2 separate regions of the Homo sapiens genome follow, and region 2 is linked to region 1. The links come from fine-mapping of genetic effects on gene expression. A gene starts in region 1. The other region holds a variant in brackets. All regions are shown on one strand. Distances are from middle to middle.

What was found. PIP is the estimated chance that this variant, and not a neighbour inherited with it, causes the effect.
Region 2: its variant is the best candidate, but not a certain one, in a credible set for the expression of ASTN1 in skin (TwinsUK, PIP 0.63).

What each region holds. Positions count from the first base shown.
Region 1 is chr1:177,162,331-177,167,719 of GRCh38, forward strand. ASTN1 (astrotactin 1) reads right to left here and starts at 2,382. Exons shown (of 23, transcript NM_004319.3): 1 at 2,064-2,382. The coding sequence starts at 2,346.
Region 2 is chr1:176,497,767-176,503,155 of GRCh38, forward strand. The region is part of intron 1 of PAPPA2 (pappalysin 2); the gene reads left to right. Among named protein-coding and RNA genes, the nearest start is that of PAPPA2, 37 kb to the left of the region's middle. The variant A/G (reference allele first, on the strand shown) is at 2,635.

The DNA.
Region 1 (5,389 bases):
AGCATACCCCACTGACTGGGAGAGTGGGAGATAATCGATGCATTTAAATAGTGCATCTGGCCCTGAAGTGAGAGAGTGTGTCTGTGTGCCTGTGTGTAAATGCCAAGTTGCACCAGATTACCATAGCAACCCCAACAGGACACTGCAGTGGGCAGCTTTGCACAGAGGTGCAGAAAACCCGTTCTTATAACATCTGGGCTTTCACTGTGCACATTGGTTCCTAGTAGGCACATCACAGCATTAGGCCCTGGTTTTGGGATTCTGCAAAAAAGAAATGAAATGTTGAATACCTGCTAGCCCTCCCTTTTTTTAAGCACCATGCTTGTACCTCTTCATGCACAGTAAACACTACAAGCAGAGTGCAAAACAGCCTCTTTAGAAACACATAATTCCCTCTACTCACTTTTATATACTATGATGAACAGATTGTACTTTGCATATCAGCATGACTTCAACGTGAACTTTCCATCCTCCAAATAACCCAGTAATTGTACATTTTGATGAGCGGCATATCCACAATGCTCCCATTTCCAGCTAGTCCCCAGTTTTTATTATGTTATTGGTATTTTTGAAAGCAAAAATAAATAATCCTATCAAGAGCATAGGTTGGGTTTAATGGGTTCAACTGAGCTGCACTCCGGGAACTATAAAGCAACTTTTCAAAGGGCCAGGCAATTTTTGAAATTGCTTTTCCCTAAGGGTTGGGGAGTAGGGGTTTATTCACTCACTTCCTAGTGTTTTCAGTGTGAAGACATCTCCTATGAAGGAAGAGCAAGAGGGATGTGTTAGAATTCCACATGTGGCTCTAGCCTACATGTGGCCATCAGGAAACCATGTTTCTGCAAATGGAACTGTAGTTGGTAGGGTATCAAGTAAATGGAACAGCCTCCTAGACATTTTCTTTTTTTCTCTACTTGGATCTAGAGACTGAAGTGTGGTTTTCTTTGAATTTCTCCTGGGCAAAATAAGAATAATTGGCAACATCACTAAAGAAATGGATTGCATGGTAGGCATGCACAGCAAGGTGAGAGCTCCATCTACACATGGAGAAGTGAGGGGAATTTGGCAAAGTAACATGAACTTGTGGTGCTTTGCAAGATACTAGAGCAGGACCACAAAACCTTTGCAGCTTAGTAGTGGAAAACAGGGATGATTTGAAGTAATGTATGGGTTCCAGTACCTGAAGTGACAGGAGTTCCACTACCTGAAGGTGACCTAAGAAAATTACAGTGGGAGTACCAAAAAGAGAGAGATGTAAACAAACAAAGGAAGGAAGAGCCCCTTGCCTAGAAAGGTCATTCTGTGTGCAGGAATGCCTACGCCTATCTAAGGTGGCCCTGGGAACAAAGAAGAGACCAATACTAACAGACTACAGTTGTATAATATCTTTAACCAACTGTGACGTGACATGGATGTGTGGATGTGGTTGAATTAGGGGGTTGTGACATCTAAGCATGGAGGTAGGACTTCCCAGAATGAACAGCTGGGGGATAAGAAACTTGAGTGTTTGGAAGGGAGGGTGTCAGTAGCCTGGTGACAGATAAAGGGCTCTCCATGAATGAAGACTAGAATCTGGCTTGCACATAGCTGGCAAGGTGATGACAGGATACCTGTTTCTAAAGCCCCCAGGAAGTGCTGTAGGTGGGTGTGGGTATCCAGAGTGAGTGAAGCAAAGAGCTGAGCATGTGGCTAGGGAGTGGGGAGAAGGGATTATGGGAGTTGAACTGGTAGCAGACAAAAAGTGCTGTGTGGATGTGCTCCTGAATCAAAGCTGGGAGGTCAAGGCTGGGAGAGGTTTCAGAGAGACTCATGCAACCTGTTTCTTTGAGGCAGGGCAGCTGAGAGGAGGCTCAGCATCCAGGTCGGATTTGGGGAGAAGTCAGGTGCACAGAGGCGCTAGTATGCAAGTGGGTGTGGAGAATGGTCCGGGAGTGGGGCGGATCCGGGAGGTAGGAGTGGGGGAGGGGAGGTCGTCGGCGAGTGGGTGTGTAGAGCGAGCTGGAGTGGGGGGTGGGGGCGCCGGTCCAGCGCCTCCGGCCGCCTCGACCTCCCCCGGGACTCACCCAGCACGAAGTAGGGCAGCTCCGTGTTCTCCAGGTCGTCCACCACGACCATTTCTCCCGGGAAGTCGTTGCGCACCGAGAAGAGGAGCTTGGGCTCCGAGGCCGAGGGGCTGTGCATGATGCTCAGGTCGTTCTCGCGCAGGAAGGGCAGTGCCGACACCGTGATGCTTTTGAGCTTGCACTCCAGCTCCTTGGATGGATCCACGTCGCCGGCGGCCGTGGCCAGCACCGCCGCCGGCCCCCAGCAGCAGGCGAGCAGGGCGCAGAGCCCGGCTAAAGCCATCTTGAGCCCCGGCCGCCTTCCTCCTAGCGCTGCGATGGTGGGGGAGGAAGCGAGCGGGGAGGGAGCGAGGGAGCGAGCGCGGGAGGCGGGGGAGGTTAGGGAGGGGATGGAGAGCCGGGAGAGCCCTGGACCCCGGAATGAGATGCCGCTTGCAGAGTCCTGGGTTTAAGCTCTGATGTCTGGAGAGCCCCGGATTCTTTGTTTCCCGGAGCTGCTTATCTGGAGAAGGGAAAGCGGGGGAGGGGGGAGAGGAGAAAAAGGGAAGGAAGGACGTCGAAAGGAAAGAGGAAGGGAGCTGAGGATTCTAGGGAATCAGGTCAGCCCCCAGCTGGCTGCCGGTGCTCCTGCCTCTCTCCTCCGTTGCATCCTCCAACACGAGCAAGGCTCTTGGCTATGAACTACCTGCACGGCATTTTTAATACATTGATCTTTGCAATGTAAAATCTTCCCTCTCGCATCATCATCCAGAAGGCTTGAGAGAGGCACACACAGACATACACCTTAAAGGGCGCTTCTGCAAAGCTGCGCGGTGAGGGGAGATGAAAATTCCCCCAGTGGTTTTGTGGATGTATTATAGCTTGTCCGAATCTTGCTTCCACCCCGCCCCGTCCCCCACTAGTTGGATTTGTACATAGGATAAACGGGAGCTGGGAATGCACATGTGCATATTTTTACTTAGCACTAACTTTGCAAAATATTTAAAGAAAATATTTGTTATACTGGTTTAGATGGATGGATAGATATGCACAACAGAGTAAGGTGCACAGTTAAGCAGGAGATCGAAACTTTTACTCGCAACTTCTCTCTGCTTCATTTCATTTCTATCACAAATTTTATCTGTAGTAACCAATAAAAAGATGATTTGGGGAATATTATAGCTGATAGAAAAAAAGTAGGGTTAGCTCAAATAAATCTTGAAACTTTAATTTTAGACAATCTAGTAAATAGGACAAAGCTGGAAAGAAATTGTGAGAAAAACCAAAGTTCCTAAGCATTCTTAACAGATGGAAAAGTAATAAAAGAATATCCTTGGGTATGAGCTAAGTCAATCCCAATCCAGTCAAGAGTACAACAGGGAAGATGTTCAGCACCCTGCGTAAGTATTCTGAAGAATAACACCACCACCACCACCACCAAAACCCATGTAAGATCTGTTCCCAGTAGTGCTCAACAATGTTGCCTTTTAAAAATGATGACAATATGCAATAAACAGTGGTAGAAAAGTGACATTGTGTATTCTGAAATCTGACATTTAACTGAACTTTCTCTCACATGATAACCAATAACTTATTTCAAAAGTGTGTCCCTCCATTGTTATTGGGTCAATGCTAACTTCAATACTAGGTGCTGTGAAGACTGTGTTATTTGTAGTTCTCACTCTAGAAATTTAATGCACTACTGTTCTAAAAGAGGACCCCTACTTAAGAAACAATTACATTTTCATTCTACCTGGTGTCAGTTTATTGGCATATGTGAAAATATGTTCTTTAAAAGACAAAAAAGCTTTTGCCATATATTTTACAAAGTTTATCTAATTGAATAGAGAAAATAAGCCATATTTAAGGTAATGTTTAAGTAGTGAAAGATCATTTACCACATATGCAAAGAAAAGAAGAACAAAGACACTTTATTAGTTGAGTTTTTATATGTAACTTATCTGGGAATTAACCCCAAGTTATCTTACCATGCAGCATTGCAAACTACTGTAAACTACTGTAAAAAAGATGTACCAGCTAACGACTTTTGAAAACTCATCCTGATCGTCATTGCTCCCCTAAGAGATACTGAGTGAGACAAAAACCCCATGATATCTCTTTCATTCTGTTATCCCTAGCATAAACAAAAATCTAGTATTAAACTTACTTATGCAAGGTTATTTGCCATTGAATAATTATAGTGGATGTCAGGAACACACCCTTGATACTAGAATGTGAGAAATGGCATGTAAGTACCTGATCATGTATTCATCCAATCTCTCACTTAACAGATAAGGAAATTGAGACCCATTAAAGAGTGATCTATCTTCTATGGAGCTAAGACCATGAACAAGATTTCTTTGCCCACTGCTCTTTCCACTATATGGTTATGGTACACTAGGGTGCACCCATGGATAATCACTGGGCTTTATGGACCACAGTAATTAATTCAGCAAATGTTTGTGTACCTACTGTATCATAAGCATTAGGCTAAGCACAGCCAGAAAAATACTACTCCTGCTTTTGAGTAGCATATAATCTACTGTCACTTTGAAATCTTTCTTTCTAATTTTCTGAAGATTCTTGAGTCATGTTAGAAAGCCCAAGTAAACCATTTAGGGTTGATTTTCCAATAAGTCAATATCTAGTCTTCTTAAAATGTATATTGAGTTGGGCATAGTTGGTAGTTGGTATCTCAAGTCTTTCTAGACCTCTCTAAACAAAACCAAACAAAAGAAACAGTAGAATTTTTTAAAAGAGAATATATTATTCCAGAGTACTTGATTCCTGTAAAAATGGAAATAATGTCACATGGCCCTTTCTTAGGGAATTAAATACCTAGAGATGTGGGTAAAGGTTGAAGTACATGGAAACCAGGCCATCTCTAATGCATGATGTTTTACATTTAGAGGAGATGGGGGAAAATGTTATGCATCTCAATCATCACCTTTGTGTAGAGGCATAATGATATAGTGAAATAATAGAACTGGATTCAAGACTTAACTTCATAATATTCTTATTTGGAGATAAGCTTGGACCATTCTTGTCTTTAGTTCCCCATCAACAAAAGGGGCCAATCATCTCCGCTCACCCCTGCTGGTCACAGAAAATGTTTCTGACTTTCATCACCAAAGAGTAATGTTACTTGCTCTTGAATTTTATAAATATAGAATCTTAGAGTATATGCTTTTTTGTGTCTTAATATTTTCACTCATCATTATGTCTGTGAGATTTATCCATGTAGTTCAATATTGTATTGCTGTGTACTAGTCCATTACATGACTACATGGCATTTATTCATTCTCAGAAAATTTCTATTCTTTAAAACACTGTAAAACAGCAAGCGC
Region 2 (5,389 bases), 660 kb before region 1:
CATATCCTAGGGCTAATACTTGCCGTTCATTATCATGCATGTACTATCATTTTTTCAACATCTGGTTAGCTCCCTTATGTTACCTTTCTGAATCCTATAGGCAATTATTTACATTTCTGAGCCCTAGAATTGGGCAGCACAGACTAAATATGCATCTTTCCCTACAGAAAAGACTGTTCAAATAATTGAAGTCCACTGTGTCTTTGGTCCTCTTTTTGTAAGGTAATAAGTTTCAGTTCCTTCTAGTGCCATCACTGCTCTGCACATCCCTTTAATTGTCTAGGCCTCTTTTAAAACATAGTACTCAGAATTGAACACAGTGGTGGAGAGTTGGAATCACAGACTCCCATTATTCTTTTCAACTCTAAAGTTACCGTTTTTTCTTTTTTTTCTTTTTCTTTTCAGAGTCCGATAAACCTTAAATGTTGAGTAGATCGGGTGGATATTTTCTGTTTTGTCTGCACAGTGTCCTTTTCCTCGGGGCATAGCACTCTCCTCTTCTCTGGGACCTGCTCCTCTCCAGGTCCCACTCTGGGAATTGCTAACTGCTTGTTAGCAATTCTCTCTCCTTAGCCACAGAGATTCATCCCAGCATAGACACCTATCACAAACCTAAACAATCAGATTTTCTTTTCTGTGATTTTTCTAACCAGAGCTTATAATTTTGGTTTCTAAGATGGTGAGGATAGAAATCTGAAGCTGGCCGGGCACGGTGGCTCACATCTGTAATCCCAGCGCTTTGGGTGGCCAAGGTGGGTGGATTGCTTGAGGTCAGGCATTCAAGACAAGCCTGACCAACATGATGAAACCCAGTCTCTCCTAAAAATACAAAAATTAGCCAGGTGTGGTGGCGGGCGCCTGTAGTCCCAGCTACTCCAGAGGCTGAGGCAGGAGAATCACCTGAACCCAGGATTTGGAAGTTGCAGTGAGCCGAGATCGCACCATTGCACTCCAGCCTGGGCGACAGAGCGAGACTCTTACCTCCAAAAAAAAAAAAAAAGAAGAAGAAATCTGAAGCTACAGGTGGCTGGCTTCCATGCTTTCTGGAAATGCTGGTCAGAAGTGGCACAAGGAAAAATACCAGGTAGCATCGTTGAAACCTCTGGAGCCACTCACACCTAAGGCTGTCCTTTCCACATTTTGGTTATTTCAGCCAGTGTATTACTATTACTTTCCCTTGTTTTTCTCCCTCCTTCTTTTTTCTCTCCCTTCATTCTTATTTCTTTTTACTTTTTTTCTAATATTAATTTACCTTGCTTTTCTCTAACTGGCAACTAAGTGAGAAAATCCTACCTAGCATATTGGGTGACGCAGAGGTGCTATGACTGCAGGAAAAGAACAAATAGTTACCTGGCTGAATGAGAAACTCTTCCCCTAATAGAGTTGATCATGAATTTTCTATGATTTCTAGTCTATTCCAATTAGTTCAGGAACATGTATTTTGGGAAACAATTATTTAATAATGTGACTTCAACTATGTCTTCTTAAATTCTTGTATCCAAAGACTAGTAAATTAACCATAAGTAATGGTTCAATTAAACTGACTAGAATTTTGGGCTATGTGGCAAGTCATGCCATAGTCTCATTGTAGATAATAATTGCCTTAATCTTTGCATATTCAGAATTCTGCCTCAAACTTATTCCAAAGATCTATAAAACTCTGCCAGGTGGTTTATCACACACATTTTGGGCAAGTGGTTTTTAGCTTATCTTTGGGCCTGGAGACATATATTTAAATGATCTTAGTGAAGAAAAGGGCAGGACTGTTTTGTGTGCTCTGATCTCTACTTCTGTGGAGTGTATTTATGATCTCCTGAGTTTGACTTCTAGCCCAGATCTGGCTTCCAGCTGGGGAGGGGAGACCATGGTGAACAGCTCGATCTACCAGCTCTCCTTCATAATGCTTCCCTCTCCTATACACAGAAAAGGATTCTGAGGCCAGAAAAAAACCATTGCAAGGAGAATTTGCCTAAGGGTTGGTCTTAATCACAGTCTATCATACTTTCTGGACAAGTTGGCTAACCCATGGTTTAATTTACTGGGTGGATAACAACCTTTTGGGGTTGTGAGTAGCTTACTGTCCCTCTCTTAGCTTGTGGTAACTGAACAAAGGCTTGCAACATTTTCCTGGGTCTGAGTCGTGATGTGTCCCTCTGTGTGTATGTATGTATTAGGAGGTCATCATGTTCTTTCAATAATAAATGAGAACAGCCTGCTCTTGGTTTGGAATGTTTACACCCTTTTGCAATTTAATTAGAAATAAGGATTTTAAGATAAATGAGTGTGTGGGTTTACATGGATAATTGTACTCAAATCAAAGGAGAGGTGACATTTGTGAAAATTTTCACATTTAGAAATATGTAAGTACATAAAAAGTTGTGAGGTTTTGTTTACCCTGTAAAAATAAGATACCTTTCTAGATATTTTCTTCCTTTTCCCACATCTCTGAAATTGGAACATTTTCCTATTTACTTTTACAGTTCCATGTATTTTATTTCAAAAATAAGAAAAACAATAAGTTTATAGGTCAAACTAAATTAAACACAGTATATTATTTTGTTCCTAAGCAAAAGGAAAAAGTGACTTTAGATATGGAAAGGCACCAGAAGAAAAAACATTTCAATTTCCTAATAT[A/G]TGCTATTTCTAAAAGCTTTTTTCACTGTAATTGAATTTTAAAAGAAAAGTTAAACCTCTAAATATGTGTACATATTTATATATATACATTTATATATAATTTATTTATACATTTATATATAATTTATTTATATATATTTGTATACATATAAAACTAGTTAACTTAGTTCACATCCTATTTATGAACTCTTTACTGTTTGCAATAACACTTGTAATTTAGGCCTATTTATTTCAAATCTTTTTGAACAGTAACATGAATTCAGAAAATTTCTAGCTAAGATTAGAGGTACATTCTGCAGTCGTGCAATAAGTCAAATACAACCAGTTCCTACTGGCATTAACTTTTGATAATGATTCAATACCAATTTCCCCTAACCTATGTATGTGATAACATAAATCTAAACCATGGTTACTGTTGACGTCATGGCTGACATGTCATTGAGAAGTCATCCGGAGGCAGCTTATTTAAAATATTGACTAATATGTGCTTTACTTTGCTAATAGCCTTAGCAAATTGGTTTTCCTTTACAGTATATTAGTACCCAGAAGGTTGCTAGGTTAGCATTAACTGCGTACTGTCAACCTTACTAGTTTCCAAATGTTAACCATAAAATATGTTTTATTTTATAACATATATAGGCATATACAATATATTAATAAGTATATATAATAGAATATATTAATATTTATAATAGAATAATATGATATATATTATACAATTATATGAAAGAAATAGAAAACCACTGGTAAGACTGACTCCAGAAGTTAAAAGCACAGAAGTAGCAGCATGAAAGCAAATTCCCAGACTTAATGGAAAAGCTTTTTCTAACAGCTTTGTTATCTCTTAAAAGTTAGTGGCTTCTGATAAATATCTCCCTATTTTTTAGTTATCACGTTTAACAATTAGTCTCTATTATTTTGAATGGTAATTACAAAGAAACAAGAAATGACAGGTCTTTGCTATAAAATCTGTTATTACTACAAAATTGATCTAGGTGAAGTTGTCCTGTCCCTCTTTGTCCCCATTTCCGTCCCTCAGGCCACTTTTTTGCAAACCCCAAATTTACATCCTCACTTCTGTCCAAACTGATGAAACATTTAAAAAATCTACAGAAACTTAAAATGGGAGCAAACAAGCTAGTAATGTACTACTGCCCCCTTGGCACTTGTAAGACCTTTTCTCTCTTGCTAAAGTAATTTTCCAGTAAGAAATGGGGAAGCCTTTCTCAAGGTTATGTCAGTGCAAATGGTTGTAGAAGAGCCCAGAGACTCCATTTTATTCTTTGTAATAGTCAGAGAAGAGTGATTGCTTCCTTGACTTTGTGGCCTTGACCATTCCTTAAGTGGCTGAGTAAAAAACAACAACATGTCTCAGAGGAGAGCTTTCTAATGGTTTTCCTGTGGTCCATTGCCCCTGGGGTGCTTCCATCACAGCGAGTCACCGTGGTGATGCCACAGTTTGAGCCTTCCTCTGAACCTTTTGCAATAGTGACACTGATATCATTTATAAAATTAATGCACCCTGGTTCAGTGGCATAGTTGCTAAGAAAAGACAATCTCTTATGGAATACATGAGTGAAAAAACAATGAACATAGACTAACACAAAGAATAACTTCTGATGTAAGTTTTTTATTAAGCCTGGAATAGCTCTTAAGAAATAAGCAGGATTGACACTTCTCATTTAATGTAGGAATGACCTACTAAGCAATGAACAAATCTTGCAAGTTTTGTCATTTACTATCCTCCAGACATCTGATTCAAGACTTGATAGCTGTCTGCACCACCCTTTCAGAATCTAACAAACAATTTGTTTGAAAGCATTGGAATGAGGTGGTGATGCCCCAAACAAGGTTTTTGCCCATATATCTTTAAACTTAAATGATATTAGTGAAGTCTATGTTTGTCATTTGGTGTAGTACAAGTAGCTATAACATAGCTGTGAAGATAGGGATTGAGTTACTTGTATTCTCAGCATTTCTGATGTACTTATTCTATCTAAAACTTTCTTCATTGGGAATGGCTAATGCAATTGATATGATCAATTTTTAATCAGCTTTTCTTAGAAAAAGATTTATTTTGTTGGGTTATACCAAATAAGCTTGTATGTATTATTCTTAATAGTATCCTTACCTGTGTCTTGCTCCACCCTTGAACAACTAGATACTGCATCTGGTCAAACTTTCAAGTAAACAACAATCACTAGGTATGTTTCAGATGGTGGGGCAAGATATTAGGACAACAGTGCAATCTCTCCATATGAAAGGCAAGTAAGTGCTATGGAAGGTGTGCATGGCAAGACTAAGTTGTTTTTCTTTCAAACAACTTACTTCACATCTAATTGAAACATGACCTATTATTGGATCTTCCAAGTTACTTGTGTGTCTTGATTATCAAGAGGACTTCCAACATTTAATTTGTGTGAAGAAAAGGGGTACAACATGATTAGGTGCCTGTAGAGTCCATGTCGTAGGTTTTTCTTCCAGTTAATAAAACCGGTTCATGTCCTGAGTATGATGCACCCAGTAATCTGTATAGTTAAACACTGGGGAATAAACATTGTATTACTTGACTATTGCTGCTGAAATAAATTGCTGCAAATTTCGTGGTTTAAAATGACACAAATATATTACCTTGTAATTCTGCAGGTTAGAAGTTTGGGGTAGGTCTCACTTTTACACTGGGTCAAAATAAAGGTGTCAGAGGGCTATGTTCCTTCTGGAGACTCTAGGAGAGAATCAATTTTTTGCCTACTCC